4 separate regions of the Homo sapiens genome follow, and regions 2, 3 and 4 are each linked to region 1. Evidence: fine-mapped expression QTL. A gene starts in region 1. Each other region holds a variant in brackets. All regions are shown on one strand. Distances are from middle to middle.

Evidence for each region. PIP is the estimated chance that this variant, and not a neighbour inherited with it, causes the effect.
Region 2: its variant is fine-mapped to the expression of PXYLP1 in whole blood (TOPMed, PIP above 0.99).
Region 3: its variant is fine-mapped to the expression of PXYLP1 in whole blood (INTERVAL, PIP 0.99).
Region 4: its variant is fine-mapped to the expression of PXYLP1 in tibial artery (GTEx, PIP 0.90).

What each region holds. Positions count from the first base shown.
Region 1 is chr3:141,229,549-141,235,260 of GRCh38, reverse strand. PXYLP1 (2-phosphoxylose phosphatase 1) reads right to left here and starts at 3,436. Exons shown (of 6, transcript NM_001037172.3): 1 at 3,350-3,436. RefSeq lists a silencer at 3,318-3,697.
Region 2 is chr3:141,284,251-141,289,962 of GRCh38, reverse strand. It overlaps PXYLP1 (2-phosphoxylose phosphatase 1), which reads right to left. Exons shown (of 6, transcript NM_001037172.3): 5 at 2,510-2,649. Among named protein-coding and RNA genes, the nearest start is that of PXYLP1, 55 kb to the right of the region's middle. The variant CACAG/G (reference allele first, on the strand shown) is at 3,292.
Region 3 is chr3:141,258,996-141,264,707 of GRCh38, reverse strand. PXYLP1 (2-phosphoxylose phosphatase 1) reads right to left here. Exons shown (of 6, transcript NM_001037172.3): 2 at 4,454-4,585. The coding sequence starts at 4,532. Among named protein-coding and RNA genes, the nearest start is that of PXYLP1, 30 kb to the right of the region's middle. RefSeq lists an enhancer at 4,168-4,912. The variant A/C (reference allele first, on the strand shown) is at 2,598.
Region 4 is chr3:141,270,732-141,276,443 of GRCh38, reverse strand. All of the region lies in intron 2 of PXYLP1 (2-phosphoxylose phosphatase 1), which reads right to left. Among named protein-coding and RNA genes, the nearest start is that of PXYLP1, 42 kb to the right of the region's middle. RefSeq lists an enhancer at 2,449-2,618. The variant T/C (reference allele first, on the strand shown) is at 2,533.

The DNA.
Region 1 (5,712 bases):
AAGTCTCAGCTGGCTTTCAAGGCCTTCTCAAAACCAGAATGATGGGCCCAGCAAATGGATTTCAGATTCCCATGGGGTCATTTTTCCTATCTCAGTGACTTTGCTCCTAACTGGTAACCCCTACACTGGAATGTGGGCACACTTCCTTATCCACCAACCAGGAACCTTGTCCAGGGACAGGTTCTGGGGCCAAAATCTCCCCCTATGAATTTTCAGGACCTTGAACATTCTCCTATCCTTTCTCCCACCCACCTCTAGATAGTAGTATGTCTCTTTCTCCCTCTCCTCCCTTTCTCTTACTCACAGACTGCAGGCATTAATTAAACCTCTTCTAGAAAACAGATTTTCACCAGCTGCAGGAATTCTGAGCCAGACCTGAAGACAGAGACAATCTGGGTAAGAAAGATAAGTTCGTGACAGCCAGGGGCAGTGCAGGCTCCCACAGCCAAGTGGCAGTCTCAATTTTAGCCCTTTCCAGATTCCCCCACAAAAAAAGGGGGACATGAGGTGTTCCCACCCCCTCAGCATTTGGCTGTACTGCCTGGGGGTGGCCTTTGACAGAGGCACAAGAGCTGGACCTTGCCCCATCTGCCAGTGGGTTATAGCCACCTCCAAGAGACCAAAGCACTGGCCCAAAACACCAACCTCCCTCCCACCAATAGAGCTGCAAGCCACAGTGCCAGAAATGTGCAAGAAGAGGCACTCCCAGCTCGCCACAGGAAGCAACACCCACTGGAGTGGGGATGGTGCAATCTGAAGTGGCCAGTGGGGCTCTGCAAGTGGTACCCTGTCTCCCTGGGAGCTTCCTCCGTCAGTGGGCAGGGATAGGAAATGTTAAAGGGGACTGGGGCTACAGCTCTGGGCACTATAGGTTAAGCTATGGTGGACTCAACCCTCAGCAGACAAACTTAGTAGCTTCCAAGGGCGCCCACCACCACCTACCCCAATTCTTGAATGAAGACAACTGATTTTCTTCATGGAAATCTTGGAGTCCCCACTGAGGTTAACGACCCACCATCAGAGACTGATCCGTAGATTGCACTCACTGCTCCAAACACACACAAAAATGAGTTTGTCTCTGGTGATATGACACATTAAAAAAAAAAAACTGTTGAATTTAAGGGTAACATTTTGAACAGTGTAGCAAAGTGTAGAAAACATTGGTTGTGAACTCAGACTAATTCACCGGGGCATCCATTTTTTTTCCTCACAAACACTGAGTACCCCTATGTGGTAGACAGGGGGGACCAGGCAGGGACCTGGGGCCACAGAGGTGGTTCCTTCCACCCATCCCTGAAGATGCTCCTGCACAGTGGGGCATCTGACAGCGACTCATCACAGAGCGGTGTAGGGAGGGCCAAGGAGAAGCCCACGGGAATTTCTGGACAGAGAGACCCTACTGAGCCCCAGTATGTCCTTGGGCTACTTATCTAATCAATAGTGAAGTAATATTGAGCTAACTATTCAAGCTGATCAATAGAAAAAAGAGTTACAGATACTGCAGTTCCACAAACACTCGGAGTGCTGTGCTCCAAAGGCCAGGTGGCCCACGCTGTTCCTGGTGCCCAAACGCAGCCTCCCAAGGCATCAGTGAGGATGGGCTGGCCAGGAGCCAATCCCTAACAGAGAAGTTCCCCCTACACATCCTTTCTCTGAGATAAGCAATTAATTTAATCCAAGACTTAATGAAAGCCAGGAGAAGGGATGGGGCAGATTCATACACTGGCTTTCAGGCTGTCCCGTGCATCTTCACCTCTCTCCAGGGACCACGAGGGTTTTTTTTTTTTTTTTTTTTTTGACAGGGTTTTGCTCTTATTGCCCAAGCTGGAGTGCAATGGCGCAATCTCAGCTCACTGCAACCTCTGCCTCCCAGGTGCAAGCGATTCTCCTGTCTCAGCCTCCTGAGTAGCTGGGATTACAGGTATGCACCACCACGCCTGGCTAATTTTGTATTTTTAGTAGAGACGGGGTTTTTATGTTGGTCAGGCTAGTCTCGAACTCCCGACCTCTGGTGATCCGCCCGCCTCGGCCTCCCAAAGTGCTGGGATTACAGGCGTGAGCCACCGCGCCCGAGGCCTTTTGATCCATCTGCTATAAATCCCCTTCCCACAGATGTCCCGATTGGGCACCAACACCTCTGAGGAGGGTAAGTTACTGCCAAGCCCGACCGCAGTCGCATCCCGTTTGAAAGGGTGGGCTCCGCACTGCCAGCTTCACACCCACGGGCCTTCTGCAAATATCAACAAACGGCTCCATTTGTGGAGCACTCTCCGATCCCCCATCCACCCCCCTACACTTCCCCATTCACAGCTCGATCTGATTCCCCATCTCTCCTGATTTTACTTGTTGAATGCTTACAAAGGATCCTTGCCTTTCCACAAAGACACTGGCTAGCCAGGCGGTGATAACCTCACTCACTACAGAGCCCCCTCGCAATCGCTGAACTCACAGCCGAAGCGGGAAAATATGGCTCCACGTCCTGCACCGTGAATCCTTTACCATCCACAGGTACAATTTAAAAGGCAGCTGCGGCTGCAAAGCAGGCAACCTACCCTAAGCAAATCCATTCTCTCTCTCTCTGTGTGTGTGTGTGTGACAAACCCAGCTTATTTAAAAGATCAGGACATAGGCAAGTTCACCAGCAAAAGCAACGTCGTGGGTCTACACCACACGGTCCTAACCTGCGCATCCAGGAATGTTAACCTGCGCTCGGGCGGCCCCGTGGCCAGGCCCGGGACTCCCGGAGGCGTCAGGCTGCAGGTGGCTGCCAAGAGGAGCCAGCCCCGTCTCCGGGAAAGGCCGCGAAGTTGCGGCCGCCTCCTTACCTGGAGACTAGCCGGCTCAGGACCGCCCGGGAAGGGGGATCCCGGGAGCTTGAATCTCGGCTGGAATCCAGCGGCGGGAGTGCGGGGGCCGTGCGGGAGAGGGCTGGAAGGGCGGGGGCGAGGTGGAGGCGGGCTCCGCGGGAGAGTGCGGGGCTGCGGGGGGCGAGGGCTTGGAGACAGAGCCGGGGGTTCGCAGCGGGCGTGAGACGGCGCCAGCTCTGGGAGAAGGGGGCTATGGGGCGGGCGCCGGGGCTGGGACACCGGGCGCACGGGGGGAGTGGCAGGAAAGAGGGCGCAAGTCCTAGGCTCAGGGGCGAGCGCGGGGATAAAGGAGGAGGCTTAGTCGCGGGATTCGGACCCGACGCTTCGAAGCGCCCCCAGCCTTCCCGCCCCTCTCCCACTGGCGAGTTAGGGGGACCCCCTCAGTCTCCCAACCTCGGACCCTGGACGCCCACCCGCCTAGAACCTCTGCGCTGCTCGGCCCCAACGGCAACCGCCCCGGCCCAGGCCCGCGCCGCACTCACCGCCCATGGTCCCAGGCCGGCCCCAGCTCCGTCGCTGCGCGCCCGGCTCGGCGCTCGCCGCCAGCTCCTCCCGGCGCGAGGGGAGGCGAGGGCGGCGCGCACCCGCCACCGGGGAGCTCGCGGGGCCCGGCAGCGCCCCCTGCCGACCCCGCCGCGCCCCGTCTCAGTTCGGCCGGCCCTGCACCAGGAGCCCTGGAGCTCCGCCCCGGAGGCGGTGTTGCGGTGCGGCTGGGCGGGGGCGACCGCGCGGGGTTGCTGAGAGGACACTGCCTCTGGGAGGCCCAGCACAGCCCGGAGAGACTGGTCAGTCTGCAGAGCCCTCGGCGTGCAAAGCCACGGGCACGGACAAGCCGAGCGCGCAGGGACCACGACCACAGACGCGCAGGGCTCTCGCGTGCCTCACAACTCCTGACCTGCGATCAGGGACTGCGCGGAGGCGCGCCAAGGCCCAGGAACACAGCCCTGGCCGGCCCGGGCCCTAGTGTGGGTGCTTTGGGGCCATGTGCCTGCCCTGGCGCCGCTGATGCTATCGCCGGGTGGGCGCGCGCGTCTGGGGTGCGCCTGCTGCCACGTAGACCCAAACTGTCACCCCCCACCCCCCACCCCTTTCGGCCTATCCCACACTCCTCTTCCGGCTCAGAACACATCCGGCCTTGTGTTGCTCTAGTCCTCGCTGCTGCTCCGTCTCCAACGGTCTGCAGAGACCCGGGGAGGTCGTGGCCCCGCGCAGTCGCCCTTCCCACCTGCTCCCGGCCCGCGGCTTCCTTGGAGCCGCTGCTGAAGATCCTCAGAGCACTTGAGGGCTGCCTGTAACGCCCCGTTAGACATCTGATAGGCGAACGGTTGTATTTGGTTTGATCAGTATTTGTGGGTCATTTATTGCAAATGTTAGGTTCCAGCTGGTGGAGATTTCCACCAGATTTCTCTGTGGGAGATGAAACGACCAACAGCGATTATCAGAGAGGTCTTTGCTGTCAGCTCGAGGTCTACAGCAACCCTGTGTGTCCTAGCACAACTAGCCTCAGGCAAAATAGATACGGATTCGAATTTGCTACTATATACCTTTGAGGTGCACCTTTGGGAGGATCTCATCCCTTGACTTCTGCTTTCTCTCCTTGATTGATGGCTCTCAAATCCACACACTTGGCTCAGATATGTTAGCCATATTTCCCCCTACCCTCCGGTTTTTTTCTTAGAACTTTCCTCCTCAAGTTACCACGTCTGGCACTAAATTTTACCTCTTCCAAGCTCCCAACTCCATTTATCCCCGTGGTCTCGCCATTCTCTCAGCCACCTGTCATGCCTTCTTCATCAGGTGCCTTAATGGCTCGTCAGTACCGGACTTTGCTGCCTGTCCGCCTCTGGTATTCCCCCGATGCAGCGCTATCCCGGGCCTTTTTTCTGCCCTGAATACTGACAGCCTCTCCCAATCCATGAGCACAAAATCTTTTCACTGTCCCCTTTGGCATCACCCCCAACTCTCCCACCTGGCCCCCACAGAAGCCCACCGCAGCCCGCCCAACAATGTCTCCTCTGCCCCTTCTGATTGTCCTCTCACGGATTGCAGGCTCTACTGCTTAGCTCACACTGTCACCCTCTTCTCTACATGGGTTAGTCAAGGTGCTTTCTGCTGTAAAAGACAACCCAATTCACACTAACTTAAATCACAAAGGGTTGATCCGCTGTGTACATGAAGAGCCTGTCTGCTTCAGGCCTGGCTTTAGTCCCAGGGTCTCAGGGACTCCCCGTCTCAGTTTTGCTGTCTTCCACATGAACTACGCTTTCATGCGCACATGAGACCCTGGCAGATCCAGGCTCACAGCCTCACAGCTCTAGTTCTAGCAGAAAATCAGCTTCTCTGCCAGCCATTGCAACTAGCCTTGGACCTGGCTTTGTTTGCAGGATTGGGCCACATGTCCATGCTGTGCTCTCAGCCTCTGTGACTCCATGGCAGGTGGGTTCACTCGTGGACACACTATCACCCTCAGCAGGGAGCATGTAGGCACTCTTGGATCCCTTCTCTGTCACAAGGGGACTAAAGGTAACTCAGGGCACCATCTCTAGCCATTTCTCTGCAAAATTTGCCACACCAGCGCTTTGCTTGACAGCGCAGGGCATACTGTGGGGGCAGAGTCTCAGCCTGGAGATAGGACACAGGCCCTTTCTGCTTTCAGCTTCCTCCTTAACCTATCTGAGATCTGTGTCTTTGTACCACCCCCTTCCCTAGGTCCACACTTGGTATAGGGATAGCCTCAGGCCCTCATGGAATCAGGCATCATACACTCCCTAGACTCACATCCTGTTTCTTTACCTCACCTTCCCGATTCCCTGAGGATGTCTATGCTACCTTCCATTCTAGAGGA
Region 2 (5,712 bases), 55 kb before region 1:
TTTAGAAACGATGATGATGATAGATGAATTGAGAAGAAAGATCTGAATGAATGATTAGGTGTGTGAGGGCCAACCCCCCAGCCTCTTCTCAGGTAGCAGCTCCTGGATCCAGAGACTGGCGCCCTCACCTCCTGTTCTCTGCACAGTCACCCTGACCTGTTAGCCAGGGCTGATGGATGCTAACCCCTAGGACCTCAAGGATTCTCCCTCTCTCAAGAATTTGGATTTGCAAGTTCATCTGTGTGTGTGGCTGGGACTGTAATTTTGTTGACAGACACAACAAAAAATTAGAGAGAGAGGCAGGGACAAGACAGCTTTTTTATTCCTGGTTCCAGTCTCTAGAGGTCTGGTCACACTCTTGATCTTAGAGTCTGTGAGTCATTCCTGAATTCTTATAATAAATTTCCTTTTTTTGCTTGAGGTGTTTTCTGTTATTTTTAACCAGAGAATCTAAGCAGCAGTTCTCAGCAAGAGTGCTACTGCCTTCAGAGAGGGCTTGGGGGTGGAGTTATCACAATAGTATGGGGAAAGGCATTCCTGGCACCTAGTGGGTAGGGGCTGGGGGGCTGGTCTCCAGAAGGGACACGTGTCTCTGTCCCACACAACTTTTGAATGCAGCATGAGACATTCCATCACGTGCAAAACATATTTGAATACTTTAGACTGTAGAATCTAATTCTGTTTTTGTGTCTAGAACACAAAACCATTTTTGTATAATATTAATGTTCACTGAATTTTCCAGAAATACAATATAAACTAAGGAACATCTATATTTTGTTTTGATCAGAACTTCAGAAAAACCATGTCCTGACATGTGGTATTAAGAGTCAACAATACAGCATCCATCAATCATCTGCATTTGTAGTTGTCAGAGTCACATTTAGGTACAAGCATTTGAAGATTTCATTCTATTTTCTAGTGTAGCTGTTCTTAAGCATTTATACAGAGACACATATAATTAGGTAGTAAATTAGTTTCTTTTCATTTGTTATCGCTGGGGACCCTGGTATAACTTTTAAGTAATTAACTGCATAGAAAGATTACATTCATTCATTCATTCATTCATTGAGACAGGGCCTCACTTTGTCACTCAGGCTGGAGTGCAGTGGCATGATCATGGTTCACTGCAGCCTTGACCTCCCGGGCTCAAGTGGTCCTCCCGCCTCAGCCACCTGAGTAGCTGGGACTACAGGCACATGCCACCACACTTGGCTAATTTTAAAAAATTGTTTGTAGAGATGGGGTTCCACTATGTTGCTCAGACTGCTCTCGAACCCTCAGGCTCAAACGATTATCCTGCCTCAGCCTCCCAAAGTGCTGGGATTACAGGCATGAGGCACCATGCCTGGCTGGTTACATTATATTTAAATTTCACTTCATGATAGTTGAGGGAGATTGCAAAATAGTTAATTGTGTAATCAAAGGGGGTGTTGGATCTGCTAGGATGAAAACCCTCGTTCTAAAGTAATGCATGTGGAACTAATTGCCAAAGGCTTTTGACACAACTCCTTATCCACGGCTAGTCCTCCAGAGGCTTCAGCTTGTTCCACTCTGTCTATCCAATATCATTTCCCCAATAATAATGGCAAAACCTAAGAGGGCCTACTATAGGATGGAGACCTTCCCTCCATCCCTGCTGAAGTCCTAAGATGCTGATGCAAGATGAAGACAGAACATGGCCAATGGGTCTTCCCAATTCACCCATAAAGGCTGGTGACCAGGCAAAGGTCCTCTGAGGTTCCAGATTGAAGAATCAGAAAACTGAAACCTCTTGAAGGACCACCTGTTCCTCTATTCCCAGCAAAGGTGACTCCACAGTTAACTCACCAACCTACCCTGATGGTGAACTGACTGCACATGGTCTGACTAGGGCTGCGGAGGGAAAGCTGTGCTTCTGTGAGAACTCAGCTCAGCCAAACAAACTCCACATGCAGTAGAAATGTGCCATGCATTTTCCTCCCTGAGATCTTGTACATGAAAACCTATTAGAAGTTTTGTTAGAAATATCTGAGAACATGAGATTAGTTAAATAAATGATCAATTGCCCATCCAGAGTGAAAGAATATGGCGCTATCATAAATGATGTAGTGGATAAACAGTTATTCATAGGGAAATATTAACAAAATGTGTTGTTGAGTGGAAAAGTGGGTTATGAAATAGTGTGTTTAGTAAGATGTGTGTGTGTGCATAAGCACAGGAAGAAGGGTTACTCTTAAGGGTCTATTTCTGTGGTGGAATTACGGTTGCTTAAACTTTTTCTTCTTTTTACTTGTCTTTCCTAAATTATTTTCATGAACACGTATTGTTTTTGTAAGAAGGAGAAAGGTTCTATTTAGTTTTGAGAACTCTGATGTTTATTTAGAGGCCCTGGTGACCGAGCTCCTTGCAGAGCCAGTCCTTGCTTACCCCCTCTGAGCTGCACAGCACCCCGCCCAGGAGAACTGCTCGGAAGGTATGCAAGCAGAAGAGCGGGTGGGGGAACCCCTGAGCGCATGGGGGTCACACATACCTGTCTGTGTGAGCTCTCCCATCTCACACAATGGGTGATTTGGGTAAAGAGGCAAGGAGTTCAAGGGGCTTTCGAAAGAGGCTCCGGATCCTTTTGACATGTGACTAATGAAAGCTTCCAGTTTTGGGTGATACGGTTTCCTAGAGAGATGATAGAGAGAGTTAGAGGTCAGAGTGCTCCACAAGAATCCAAACAGTTTCCAGCTTCAGCGAGCCAAATCCCACGTGTATCGCAGCCTTTTGCACCCACAGTAACAGGTACCGGCTCAATCACTTTTCAGTTCCAATTTCATTATTTCTCGACCACTGACACTGACACATGAAATCCCCTCTGTGAGGTTGGCCAGAGTTCCTAACCTCTGCTGAACTCAGTACTGTGGGATTCAGCTTCGCCGTCTATCTTCCGGCTCCCCAACCTGTGCTGCCTTCCGGGCTCGCTCTCCGGGAGGCCGCCAACACCCACCCAGCAGTCACGCCTAGGCTGGGCATCGTCCCACTCTCTCCATTCCCTGCCCCTGCACATGCTGTCTGCTCCCCATGTCTTGCAGATTCTTTCTCCTGGTGCTTCTCCATCCCCTTCTCCTTCATCCTCACAGCTACTACCTAGGTTCTGGCCTCAGGCAGCTTTTGTCTGGCTGGCAATGGGCTCTTTATTGGTCTTCTTGCTGATTAAGCATGCCCCTCTAATAATCTTGCCTTCTCCACCACCAGAAGGATTGATTTAAAAGGTAACTCTGACCAGTCACTGCCCTTCCCTATCACCACCTTCTGGAAGGGGCCACA[CACAG/G]CCTGTCCCTCTATTCTGGCCTCGCCCTGGTACTCACTGGCCCTCTCTACCCTAATACTGTGCTCTGGCCACGCCAAGCCAAAGGCCTTCTTTCCTCCAACACACAACGCACCTCATTCTTCAACACTTCCACCACTTCCCACGAGCTATCCCTTCCTCCTAGAAAATCTACCCTATCCTTTATCAAGGTCACCCATAATCCTTAATTTTTCTGACCTCTGAAAAATCCCCCTTTAGGAAAATTGTTAACTGAATAAGATAACCAGGATCTCTATACCTCTTTACAATCCACTCCACGTTTTGGACATACAACCTCTCATTTAATATAGGGTAATAATAAATGTCAAAAAAAGTTTATATATGAGATCTGAGAGTATCTATATTTCTGCCACAAAGTATATGTGGTAAATCTTTCTAGTCACTAATATACAATTACCCTGAATAATGAAATGACCTATGAATATAAACATCTTTTCTTTGAATAATGAAGTAGCCTATGAATGTATATACATTTTCCAGCTGAAGAGAAGTGGACAGATAGAGTAGTTCATGCCTAAACTCTATAAGAATCAGCATGAAAAGAAGCAAAGATAAACTGTTCTAATGGCAAACCCCTGCTGTCTGAAGGCCCAGTTAACTTTGAAAGTGCTTTAAAAATGGCTGCCAAAATGGGTTTATTATCTATCAACAACATAAAGCTAAAAAAAAAATCCATCTTTTAAAAATACGTTTTTAAATTAGAGAATACTAATCCAGACATGTAATATAGTCTAATAAATCACCCTGGATAGCTAAAGGGAGTTATGCCTTTCCACAAAAACAGGGTACGTTATTTTGCCTGAGGCTAAAGCACATAAATGTTTGCAAACTGGGAAATAAAATGTCCAGACTGACAATGAGGCTGCCAAGAGTAATCCACATAAACAAAGGCTATCCATCAACAGGAGTCAAATGTTCTGCACCAGGCCATTATTTCAGGTTGGAGCTTTTTTTGAGGATCTGAGAAAGCTTTGCTGCCAATTTTAGAAATGGAATTTCATGACTGGAAGTGTTTGCTGAGGTGACCCAGGTTTTCAGGGCATCTGACTGCTTAATGATATCTAACTGCATTCATTCCAATGTTTTTTATTTTTGTTTTTTTTTGTTGTTGTTGTTGTGTTGTTTGTTTTTGGCATGCAAAGATGAAGATTTGTGGAAGAAAAACTTCATTTAAAGAATAGCTAACAGGCCGGGCATGGTGGCTCATGCCTGTAATCCCAGCATTTTGGGAGGCCGAGGTGGGAGGACTGCTTGGGGCCAGGAGTTTGAGACTGGCCAACATAGTGAGACCATGTCTCTACAAAAAATACAAAAACTAGCCAGGCATGGTGGCGCAGGCCTATAGTCTCAGCCACTCAGGAGGCTAAAGCAGGAGGATCACATGAGTCCAGGAGGTCGAGGCTGCAGTGAGCTGTGATTGTACTACTGTACTCTAGCCTGGGTGACAAAGAGATACCCTGTCTCAAAAAAAAAAAAAAAAAAAAGAAAAAGAAAAAGAAAAAAAACATTTGACAACAAATGGCTGTATCTTTTTAGTGGAAAGCAGACCAGGTAACTCGAGTCCTGGACCTGGATCTGACTACCCAGGCCTTGTCTGCCTGGTCCACTGCTCCATCCCTGGAGCCCAGAGGGTGCTTAGCACATAGCAGATGCTCTAAAAATATATGTGAGTGAATTCAACTGTGAAGTGTCCCATCCTTGGATGTTTCATGAAAATAGCAAGCCTTCCATAATCTGTAGAAATGAATACGATAAGTTCCCATACGGTTTGTTAAAATATTCAGATTTTGATGAAAATATAGTCGGCCCTCCATCTCTTCAGATTCTGCATTGGAAGATTCAACTGTGGATCCAAAAATACTTGGAAAAAACCCAATAAGAAATAACAATACAACAATAAAAATAATACAAATAACAACTATTTACACAGCATTTACATTGTGTTTGGCGTTATAAGTAATCTAGAGATGATGTAAAGTACATGGGAGAATGTGCGCAGGTTCTGTGTAAATACAACACCATTTTACATAAGGGACTTGAGCATCTCAGATTCTGGTATCCAAGGAGGATCCTGGAACCAATCCTCTATGGATGACTGTATTAAAACTAAAGGCTAGTGTGGATGAGACTAGTGTACTAGTCGTACACTAAAATCTATTCTCTTCTTAAGAACTTGGTTAGATCCTATTTCTGAGGTCCTGAAATGAGGTAAAGCCGCATTCGCCAACAGAACGGAAAGATGTATGCCACTTCTGGGTTCAGGCTTTCTGATCATGTGTATGCCCGGTTCACATTATCTTCCTTCCTTCCAGCCATTATTTAGGCATGGCAGCAACCAGGGTTCAACCATGTAGCCATCCCCAGGGGATGGTAGAAAC
Region 3 (5,712 bases), 29 kb before region 1:
CTGACTCCAGAGCCCACGTTCTTTCTGACCCCACTGTGCTGCTGCCTCTTACCTGTCCCAGCACACAGCACCTGGTATTCCAGGGTGTCGGCTTGTGATTCTTCTCCACTGGACAAAGAGCTCCCTGGGGCCCATGAGGGATTAAACTCTCAGCCCGGGGCCTAACACACAGTGGAAACTAAAGAACATTTGCTAAAGAACAAAGTGTCACATACTCATGGCACTGGATCAATGAGAAAAGATAAAATTCATAAAACCTAGAGTTTAAAGAGACTTTAAATGGGATCAGACTCAATGACCTGTCCAATACTTTACTCTTCAAAGAGCAGCCCTCCAGAGTTTGCAGACTCCAGTGACGGAGAACACACCATCCATTCCACCTCTGCATGGCACTGACTTTTAGGAAGTTCTACCATATGCTTAACTGAAATGTGTCTCCATGTTCACCTCCTCTTGCAGAAAGGGCCCTTCAGATATTGACAGCAACCCTCACTCTCATTTTTGCAGGTTAGCCCTCCTCTTTTCCTCTTTTCCCACTGGGAATCTGAATCTCCAGTTCACCTTCAGCATTTCCTTCGACTCTGCTCTGGCCAATCGGGGCCCTGACCAAGAGGGAAACCCCAGATATGGGTGCCATGTGCTCAGTATAAATTAACCCCATCATGGCCAACGCACTCTGATTAAAAACAAATGCATGCGTGATCTATTTCAAAAGCTTTCCCCACCAAGTGGCTGAAGTAACATAAACTCTGGCAACTTCTGGAACACCAGGAGCCCTGGTTTCTGATGATGGTGCACTATGACGGAACTCTGCGCTGGTTTGCTTAAAAGGTTTATGTTGGCTATGCTTCCATGAGCCAAGGGTTTTCCCGTATCTCCGTTCTCACAGCAACCTTGCAAAACAGCAATAATTAACTCTATTTTACAGAAGAAGGAATAGGACACACAGCCACTTAGCAGGGAAGCTGACATTCAAATTATGATTCTAGAGCCTGCGTGCTCCTGTCACAACACCATTTTGGGAATGGTGGTCAGAACATGGAGAAATGAGCATAAAATCAGCATTAAGAAAATGCAAGGGCCAAGGAGGGAAGTGAATGATTACAAATGAGCACAAAAAGTGGAAACATAACTCATGATTCCTAAGTCTTCACATCCTGACAGTCTTTCCTTGCTGCACTAAAGGAGTCCTTTAATTTGAAGTTATTTTTCCACTTGTATGTATTTTAACTACAATAACCAAAAATATCTATGCCTTGCCTGTTCCCTTCTACAATTCAAACATCAGGAATTTCAGAATGTTTCACCTTCCAAACACAAAACATTAAAGACTTGAAAACATAGACTTATTTTTATTAAAGACAATTAGCATATAGCAAGTCATTAGCACCATTTAAGATGAACATATTTTGAGAAACTGTGAACAGTATCTTAATCTTTTCTGTATTTCCTTACTACCTCCACTTCCACAGTGTAGAAAAACGTCAAACACACATAAGCACTTAATAAATATATGTAGGTTCACTACATACTTTCTGTATCCAGAGGAAGACATACTTATTTAAGCAATCTGATTTTTGAATCGTAACCTGGGCTATTTCTTCTTCACATTCAAAACATCAGGAAAAGAAAACTACCAATAAGACCAAATAAGATATACGATCATTTCAGATAACAAAGCTATATTCTTTACTTAAAGCATGAGAAAACCGAGTTATACTTAGTTGCCTCAAATATGTTACTTAAAGTAATTATATATGCTAATTTGGTATTCAAAAATAAGTAAAAAGAAATGGTAAAGAAAAAAGTCCATATATTTTAGGATAAGAATGAGAACATAAGTGGTATATAAGCGAAACCTGTGCGTTATGAATTAGTGCTGTTTCTTACAGTATAATAATAAGCAACCAATAAAGCAATTAAATAAATGGAGCAATTAAACTCACTTCTACAGAAATGGGGAAATTCCAAAGTTACAGTTTACCTAAAAGAAGAGCAGTAAGAACGTCCATATCTTAATATCTTTCCGATCTCCAACGTATCCAAGAATAAAGAGCTCAGACCCAGACAGGCTAATTTACCCTGCAAAATTTTCCTTAAAAAAGTATGGCTGAAAATTGGCTTTCCTAAAACAGAAGGTACTTTCAGAAGAGTTATATAAGCAAAACACACAGGCCAATTCAGTGACGTGGAAACCAGCTCATGCAAGAGAAATGCCACAAACACAAGTAACACACATTCATGTCTCAGAACCTGTCAGCCTCTCAAAATAAAATCAGGGTTGACTGTAACATCCTACCTCTCCAACCAAAGGATGGAAAATTTTTAATGAAAATTTATAAACAATTAAACTACTGAATATCTTACCACACTTTTTGGAAAGGATTCAGATTTTACAATTCATTTGCCATCTGGAATATTTTTAAACTTCTGATGCCCACCTTCTTTTGACCTCTTTTCCAATTCTGGAAGGATAAAACGAGTATTTTAAATTCTTTTTACTATTAGAAATAGGCTGTCATATGCATGTACATGGAAATATGTCACAATTGGAAGTGAATCAGAGAAACTTCCTCAAAGTCTCCTCTCTTGAAACC[A/C]CCTCCTCCTAGAGCCAAGCCTTCCCCATGTTCCTCTGTGTACTCATAACATCCCACTTACCGAGCCACCTGCCCTTCTTTCCATCATTCAAACTGCAACAGAAATGCCCCTCCTCACACAGCTGTCCTGGGTGGTGTGGGTGCCAACTGCTTGTCTCCCACCCATCAGGATGAGGTGGTTAAACGGAGAGAAGGCAGGTGACAGCAACAACACAATTCCTGGCATCACACAGATGTTTTCTCAGCTTCAAATACACAGCAACAGAAGGAAAGAAAATAAGGTTCCATCTGCTTTTTAGAGCAGGCATGGATTCATGCATTCAGCAGACATTTACAAAATATTACTACGTGCTAGGCAGTGCTGGTTCCTGGGATACAGAGAGAAACAGGATGTGGTCCTGCTCTCAACGAGCAGACAATCTGGTAGAAGGAAAAGACACAAGAACTGAAAATTATACTAGTGCATGGTTAGTGAAAGGAGGGGGCCGGGCGTGGTGGCTCACGCCTGTAATACCAGAACTTAGGGAGGCTGATGTTCTTACTGCTCTTCTTCTTCTAGGTAAACTGTGACTTTGGAATTTCCCCATTTCTGTAGAAATGGAGTTTAATTGCTCCATTTATTTAATTGCTTTATTGGTTGCTTATTATTGTGCTGAAAAAAATGGCACTAATCCATAATGCACAGGTTTATGCTTATGTAACACCTATGTTCTCACTTGAGGTCAGGAGTTTGAGACCAGTCTGGGCAACATGGTGAAACCCTGCCCTGTCGCTATAAAAATACAAAAAATTAGCTAGGTGTGGTGGTGCACGCCTCCAGTCCTAGCTATCCAGGAAGCTGAGGTGGGAAGATTACCTAAACTCCTAAACTCGGATGTTGAGTCTGCAATGAGCTGTGATCGTGCTACTGCACTCCAGCCTGGGCAACAGACTAAGACCCTATTTCAAGAAAAAAACGGGGGAAGGAAGGAAGGGAAGGAGGGAGGGAGACAGGTTCAAGGATTCAGGGCATCCTGATGTATATAAAAGAAGCACCAAACCCTTAAGTATTCCTGGAAGGGTCCTAGAGGAGAAGGGGCAAGGGCTGAAAGGGAAACAATGAGAGGGGGTGAGGAGGAGAACGCTCTTGGCAAAGGAGCACCAGGATCTGAGCACAGAAGCAGCAGAGAGGGGCCACAGGAGGGCAAGGGGCCTCTCAGAAGACCATGGGCCACCACTGAGGTGTTGCCACTAAGGAGGTCCTGGGGCCAGATCTGTGTCTGAGAACAGCCACTCTTAGGTGAGCTGTAGTGTGCACAGATTTGGGGCCTGGCCTGAGCCTAGGAATCTCAGTGGAGGATGCTGCATGGTGAGGCCCATGGCCTGGCTTTATCAGAGTCCTCCTGTCTCGTCACAGGGGATTTCCCATGCAGCCCCTGCTGCCTGGGGGGTGGGTTTGATACTGGTGACCTAATCTCCCCACCCTCCCCGAAACAACTCCAGCCCCGCGGCTGACTGAAGGCTAAACAGACACCCAACTTGCAAGGACCCAATCAAAGGGCTAAACACCTCTGCTCTGTGTGGTTCAGCATAAGAAGTCAAGCAGGGCCACTCAGTGTCTCCATCTGGTGAATCTGAACAAAAAATCTGGGAATAACCAGGCAGTTCAGGAATTCATGCAAAAGTCAAAAGAGCACACAGAACACTGCTCGGTGGTTTAGGATCCCTCCTTGCAACCGGCCACTGTGAGTGCCAACAATAAAAAGACTTCGTTGTCTTCAGCCTCATCATTCATTTATAAAACAAGCCTTTGGGGCCTCCTTGTTTCCTATGAAGCCCCTACCCTCCCACGACCTGCGGGGCCCGGCTCTACTCACAGAACTGCAGGCTGAGGCTCACAAAGGCCAGCAGCGCAGCCAGGGCCAGCAGCAGCAAGAAGCGGTTGCGGAAAAGCATTATTAAGTATTCTATTTTCTCTTCATGGTTTCACCTCAAATCGGGAACATGTCCTGTGAATAAAGCAGAGGTGATAAATGAGTGTTTAGAGGTGGAGAACTAAATTTGTCAACTGAAAATAACCAAACTTGTCAACTGATAATAATCTGATTAGCCCAGTCCCCCGGCAGGGAAGCATGCATCTCTAGCTGGAGAACAACAGCATGCTCTATGATTAGTCTTTGCCCCCAAATAAGCCCAAGCGAGAATGCTCCCTTCAAGTTAGTAAGCAAAAACTAGTTCCTGAATGCCTTATCTGACATCAACAAGGAATGAGATATTTTACAGACATGACCTTCCCAAGGAAAAACGCAAAGGATGTTTATTGGGTATTTACAATGTGCTGGACAATAAGGGAAATCTTCACACGGACTCATCTTGCTGTGACCTTTAACCTTTAAATCTTCAAGGTTTTTTGGTGGACATTCTGCTGAAATGATCTTGGTATTCTTTAATTGTAATTGTTAATCTGAACAACAATCATCACAACATGTCCCCCAATGCCTTGGGGGATGGTCTGGGTGTGCAAAAGGATTTGCTCCTACACCGACTAGCTCCATCTGCTAATTGAGACCTCCCTTCATCCTGGACCACTAAGCCTGTTTCAGCTGTATCCATGGGTCTTCTGGAAGCCTCGTCCTGCCTATTCAAAATTCCCCTAACCACATTGGAAGTGTGCAAGAGGACTTTTTAAAAAAGCTGAATAAGGTCCTAAATGTCCCTTCTGTGGGAAAAAAAAAAAAAATGAATGACTACTATAACTTCTACCCTATCAGTTTTAGAAGTCAAGTTTATTTCCTGGTTCTCTTTGGGATTTTAAAGAGAACTTGCAAACCATAGTCTCTTTAGAAAAGGTTCTTAAACTACAGTTAGATTGTAACGGTAATTTCAAACTTGAATCTTTTCCCCATTCAAATATAATCTTCTTCAGAGATCAGACAGACAAAATCAGATAAAAGCTCATCTGCTAATGTGTGAGGGCTGTGTAACTGTGAATATAACTGAATATAGCCATTGAGCTGTACACCTGGGGTGAATCCTATCTCAATAAGCTGTACTACGAAAAGCACATCTTTTGGGAATGAAGCAGGAGCCAGACTCCCAGAGCCCCTTGCCTACCACCTCCTCCCCAAGGGCCCAG
Region 4 (5,712 bases), 41 kb before region 1:
TACTGATATAATCCTCTTTGTGTAAAGAAAAAAAACAAACCATAAATGCATAAATATACAGGGATTTGTTTATTACGTAAATGCATAGAAAAAATGTCTAGAAGGTTATCCATCATAACACAGCAGTGGTTTTCCTCTGGGAAAGGATGGAATGGGGTGTGAAAAAGTATTTTTACTTGTTTGTATATTCGCACACACATATACGTACAGTCATGAGTTGCGTAACAATGGGGAGGCACTGAGAGATGGCCCTTAGGCAATTTTGTCATAGTGTAAACATCATAGAGTGCACTTACACAAACCTAGATGGTAGAGCTTTCTACACACCTAGGCTATTTGGTCAGCCTGCCGCTCCTAGGCTACAAACCTGAACTGCATGTTACCGCACTGAATGTTGTAAGCAGTTGTAACACAATGGTAAGTACTTGTGTATCTAAACATATCTCGACTTAGAAAGAATACAGTAAAAATATGGTATTATAATATGGCACCACTGTCATATATGTGTTCTGTCGTTGATGGAAGTCATTATGTGGTACATGACTGCATATGTATTTATAGTAAGCACATATTAATGTATTCTATATGTATAGAAATATATATTTCTGTATTTCTATGCTGTCTAGGTAAGCATTTTTTTTTTTTTTACAGTGAACGTATTTCCCTTCATTACTTGTGTTACCAAAACAACAATCACAGAGATACAGAACTGGTGATTCACCCACCCAACATTAGCCCTTTGGTTGCTCCTAGGGCCACTTTCTTTCCAGTAGTTGGAAGGTGCTAGGATGGCTAACACAGCCCAGGTGTTCAGAGGGAATTCACTACAGGGGGATTAGCACAAGAGCACGGAAATATAGAAAAGTGCTAAGGCAGTCTCTTAGTGACCTGGCCCTTCTGGCTGGCTCAGTCCTTGATTCTGCTCTTTTGTGAAATCTACCAAGTCCTGGCCCCTTGGCCATGCCTGTGGGCACACTCCCTTGGAGTCTGGGCCAGGGACAGAAGCAGCTAAGGAGACAGGATAATATGAGTGACACAGAAATGGAGGGGCACAGGTGAGGACAGTGGGTGTCCTAGAGTGCCCACAGTTTGCTAGTTCATCTATAAGCACCCGGGGTGAGGCCTGTTGTGGCTGCCATTTGGGAACCATGGTGGTTGGGTGCAAATGACCCACCCATGACCCAAGGAAGCAGTGGTTTGAAAACCACAGATAAAGATCAGAATGAGACCTTCTCTCCAGAAAGATTTTATCTGCTGCTTCCTCTGGTATCTGGGCCTGTCAACTGTGTCTACTAGTTCAGAGTGTGAGATCACCCTGTACTATTTGTACCTCCCTGAGTCACCAGGACATAGCATCAGTTCACAAGGGGCCTTCCCAATACCAGGCATTCAAAACAGGTCCTGACACATAGAAGCTGTGAGGAGAAGTCTCCCCAGCTCCATCTTGACCCCAATCCCAACTTGGTTCTCACTGTTCTGAGCTGCTCTGAGCCATCCCACCCCACAGGATGTTTCTCGCCTATGCTCCACCGTTTGCTGGCAACTCTACTCTCACCCTCTGCTCCCGAAATCTGACCAACACTGTAACTGATCCTAGGGTCACCTCCTCCAGGAAGCCCGCCCTGAATCCCCAGTTCCCACATCCTCTTCTATGAGCCTACCCAGTTCCTGCTGCCGTCATGGCTCACAGCATAGTATATGCAAGCAGGGGTGTCCCAGTTTGTCACCCTGCCATCCCAAACATCCAGAGGGCTGGGAGTGTGCGTCTTTCACATTTATATCCCCCGCTGACTGACAGAGGATAGGTCTTCCAAAAATACCTGCTGAACTGGGGCAGACGCTGTGCTCCATGCTTTTGATGAAATATCTCATTGACTCCTCATGTGGAGCACTGAGGGTTGCCGAACCAGTCTGGGGTGAGGGGCATCCAAACAGGCTTCCCAGAGGAGACACCTAGCTGGGCCTGAAAAACTGATGAAGCTGGCTGTGTGGAGGGGAAGAGGAGAGGAGCAGAGGGGAGGCCGTGAAACACAGCCAAACATGGCAGATGGGGGTCAGCAAGCTGGCTCAGGATACGCCTTGGGTCCCGTAAGGCCTGGTCAGGTTGGCCTCACCAGGGTCGATGTGCAGGCCGGGCTCCAGGAGGAAGGCTGGGAAGGGGCCTGGAGGAGCAGACCCCGGGCTGCAGGCCGCCTCTGCCCTGGTGCTGTGCTACTCACCACATCAGCTCTTGAGGCTTGCCCCGATCACCTAGATAAAGGGAGCTGAGGGACAGACCCAGGGGCTGGGGGCAGACACTGCTCCAGGACACTGCTCCTCCCAGCAGGCTTTGCCCAGGCCCCCCGTGCCTCTAGCTGTCCTGTGGAACAATTAGAAACTCTGCTGACCTCAGGCAGATGACAGCAGCTCAGATGTCACAGGGCAAGAGAAAGAGGCTGTGGGGGCATCAGAAAGAATAGTGGGCAGATAAATAGATGGAAGGATAACGAGTTTCATTATGTAGGTGGGAAAACCCATGAATCTAAATGAGTG[T/C]CCTGGGGCCACTGTGCCACCAGGACCAACACGAATAACAGGATACGAGATATCTTTTACTGATGATTAACTCTGTACCAACGGGCATGCAATTTCTCTGTGGTGTGATTACCAAGTAGGAGGGCAAATTTCCGTAAGCTACCTTTGGAAATAAGCCTCTCTTTTATGGCGGTGTTCTCTGCTCATCTCATCTACGATCACTTTCATCCTGTCCACACATCTATAACCCTCATGTGTAAAGATGCCGACAAGGTCTCAATTTCAAAGAAATGGCAGAGAACATGACCTCTAAAGCATCTCCTTGGGACCCTCCCTCTCAAAAGCAACCAACAAATTTCTTAGAATCATGAGTAAAACAACCAGATGCTATCCCACGCAGGCTCCCTCCCCACCACCCTTCCCCACCCCATCTCCCGAATGCACAGTGGATGACTCTGTATGTATTACTAGTAAACATTCCCATAGCTATAGCTAGGATGCAAGCCAAACTGATCCTCTCTCTGCTTTTCCCAGCTTTGGATCTCAACCTAGGAAGAGTAACCATCAGCCAGACAGTAGACCTTAGGCAGAGGCAGGTCAAGGGAGTTACCTAAGGTCCTGAAGCCTGTAAGCCCGGACCTGCTCACCCACTAAGCTCGGTATTTATGCATTTGTCCATCTGGCCATCCAACATGTATGGAGCACATGCTGGGGATTCTTCAGAGAATAAAATGGACAAGGTCTCTGCCCTCACGGGGTTTACAATCCAGTTGCGGGGGACAGTCAGACATTAAATAAGAAAAGGTGGGGAGAAAGCACATGGACCATAAGGAGAAAATAGCCTTCTCAGGCACGGGGCCCCCTGCACTCACTGGTTGCTGGTTGGGGGGTGCAGGTATGGAAACGATGCAGTGAAGACATGGATATAAAGGAAATATTGGGAAGTTACCAGATGTGATGGTTAATACTGGGTGTCCACTTGATTGGGTTGAAGAACACAAAGTATTGCTCCTTGGTGTGTCTATGAGTGTGCTGCCAAAGGAGATTTACATTTGAGTCAGTGGGCTGGGAAAGGCAGACCCACCCTCAATCTGGGTGGGCACAATCTAATAAGCTGCCAATGCAGCTGGAATATAAGCAGGCAGAAAAAATATGAATAGACAGGCTGGCCTAGCCTCCCAACCTACATCTTTCTCCCATGCTGGATGCGCCCTGCCCTTGAACATCGGATCCAAGTTCCTCAGTTTTGGAACTTGGACTGGCTTTCCTTGCTCCCCAGCCTGCCGACAGCCTATTGTGGGACCTTGTGATCATGTGAGTTAATACTTAATAAACTCCCCTTTATAAATATATATATACGTATATATTCCATTAGTTCTGTCCCTCTAGAGAGCCCAGGAGTGGTCAATAACAGCTTTAAGCAAAACACGACTTAATCAACTAGACTTGGGTTAGTAGCGAACACTAGAAACTTGTTTAGAGAGACATGTTTCATCTAATGATGATTTGCTCATTTTGATTTTTTGTTTATTCCATTGATGGTCCCCATGGAATAGAAAATAAGGAGGGAAAAGGCCAGGGTCAGAGTCAGATCATAACAGCACAGGTTGCTAGGCCACAAACCCCTGTCTAGCCTTTGAACCTCAGGGCACCTTAGTTATCCCTGAAACTCAACAACCATAGGGGCAGCAGATAAAGTTATAACCGAGTATCTGCTGCCACCTCATTATCTGGGAGTTACTCTGACTTGCACAAGGACACACCAGTTTCTTTCCCCTAGGGTGTCAAGCCAACCTCCCTGATATCCAGGTCACCTCCCTATACCAAGGCCCTGGGATAGGGCCAAGGACAGAAATCTACCTGCATATGTGGCCTTCTTCTTGCCTTAGGAAACTGCTGTATGCAAGCTCCTTGCAGGTGCCTTGAAACTGACTTTAATGGAGCACAATGAAGGGCCCCAACCCTGGGTCAGCTCATCTCTCCCCACTTCCTTCTGTGGCGACAGACCCATCCTCCTTTGGGAGCAGCTCCTCTTCTCATGCCAACCCCATGGCCCGGTGGGGGCTGTCATGCTGCTCCTCCAGGACCATGTCTCCGCCTTGCTAACTAGCCCAGGGATGAGGACCTGACTCTAGGCAGCTGTGCTAATAAAGGGACCTTTCCAGGAAAGACAGGCTGTCCCATGTGGAAGACACTTCTGCAGTGGGAGTCAGATGGCTTCCAAACCCCTCCCTCCTGCCATCCCCATGCTTGTGTGATTTGGCTGTCAGCCTTCTTCTGATTACACAGATACCTGGCAGATTACAGTTGGGTATCAGGGACCCAGAGTTTCCCGGGAAATGTGAGCATGATGAGGCTAAAGTGTTGGCTCAGCTCTGTCTCCATTGCTCTGGGATCAGCTGCCACACAAGTCACCCCACTGACTACACCAGCAAAGAACCTCTTGGGGCCAAGGTCCAGCTCCACTATCTGTTTACCTTCCTAGCTCCAGGGTCTGCCTTGCCCTTTTTGGGACTTCAACACTGGGCTAGTCACTTCCTTAGGGGACTACAGTCACTTTTTCCTTGGAACTCCACTGACATCTGTCCTCAGTTGCCCCTGCTACCATGGTTCTGAATGCAGGGAGGTAGCCTGGGGCTGGGGGCTGCAAATGAGCTATAGTATTACAAAGATGTGAATTCATGTCCTGGCTCTGTTACCTCCTAGCTGTGTGACCTGGGGCAAGTATCCCTGCCTCTCTGTGCCTCATTTCCTTCATCTGTCAAATGAAGGTGATGATACCTACAGATCAGGGTGGTAATGATGATGTTGAGATACCACCTGTGAATGGATTCTGGTAAGGAATCAAGAAATACTATTTTCAATGTTTAAAAAGTGAGCAGGATATGGTGGCACATGCCTAGAGTTCCAGCTACTCAGGGGACTGAGGCAGGAGGATCGCTTGAGCTCAGGAGTTCGGGGCTGCAGTGAGCCCTGATCACACTACTGCATTCCAGCCTGGGTGACAGAGTGAGACTCCATCTTATAAATGAATGAATGAATGAATGCTATTTTCTACATCCATCCCCTGGATGTGATTATTCCTGTTTCCTGCAGGCTCTTAAAAGGCGCTCCCTTCAACTTGGGATCTGGAAGGGATATCAAACCCCTGCGTCCACCCCTTCACAAAAGCACAACCAGCCAATCTCCCTTCTCCTCTTG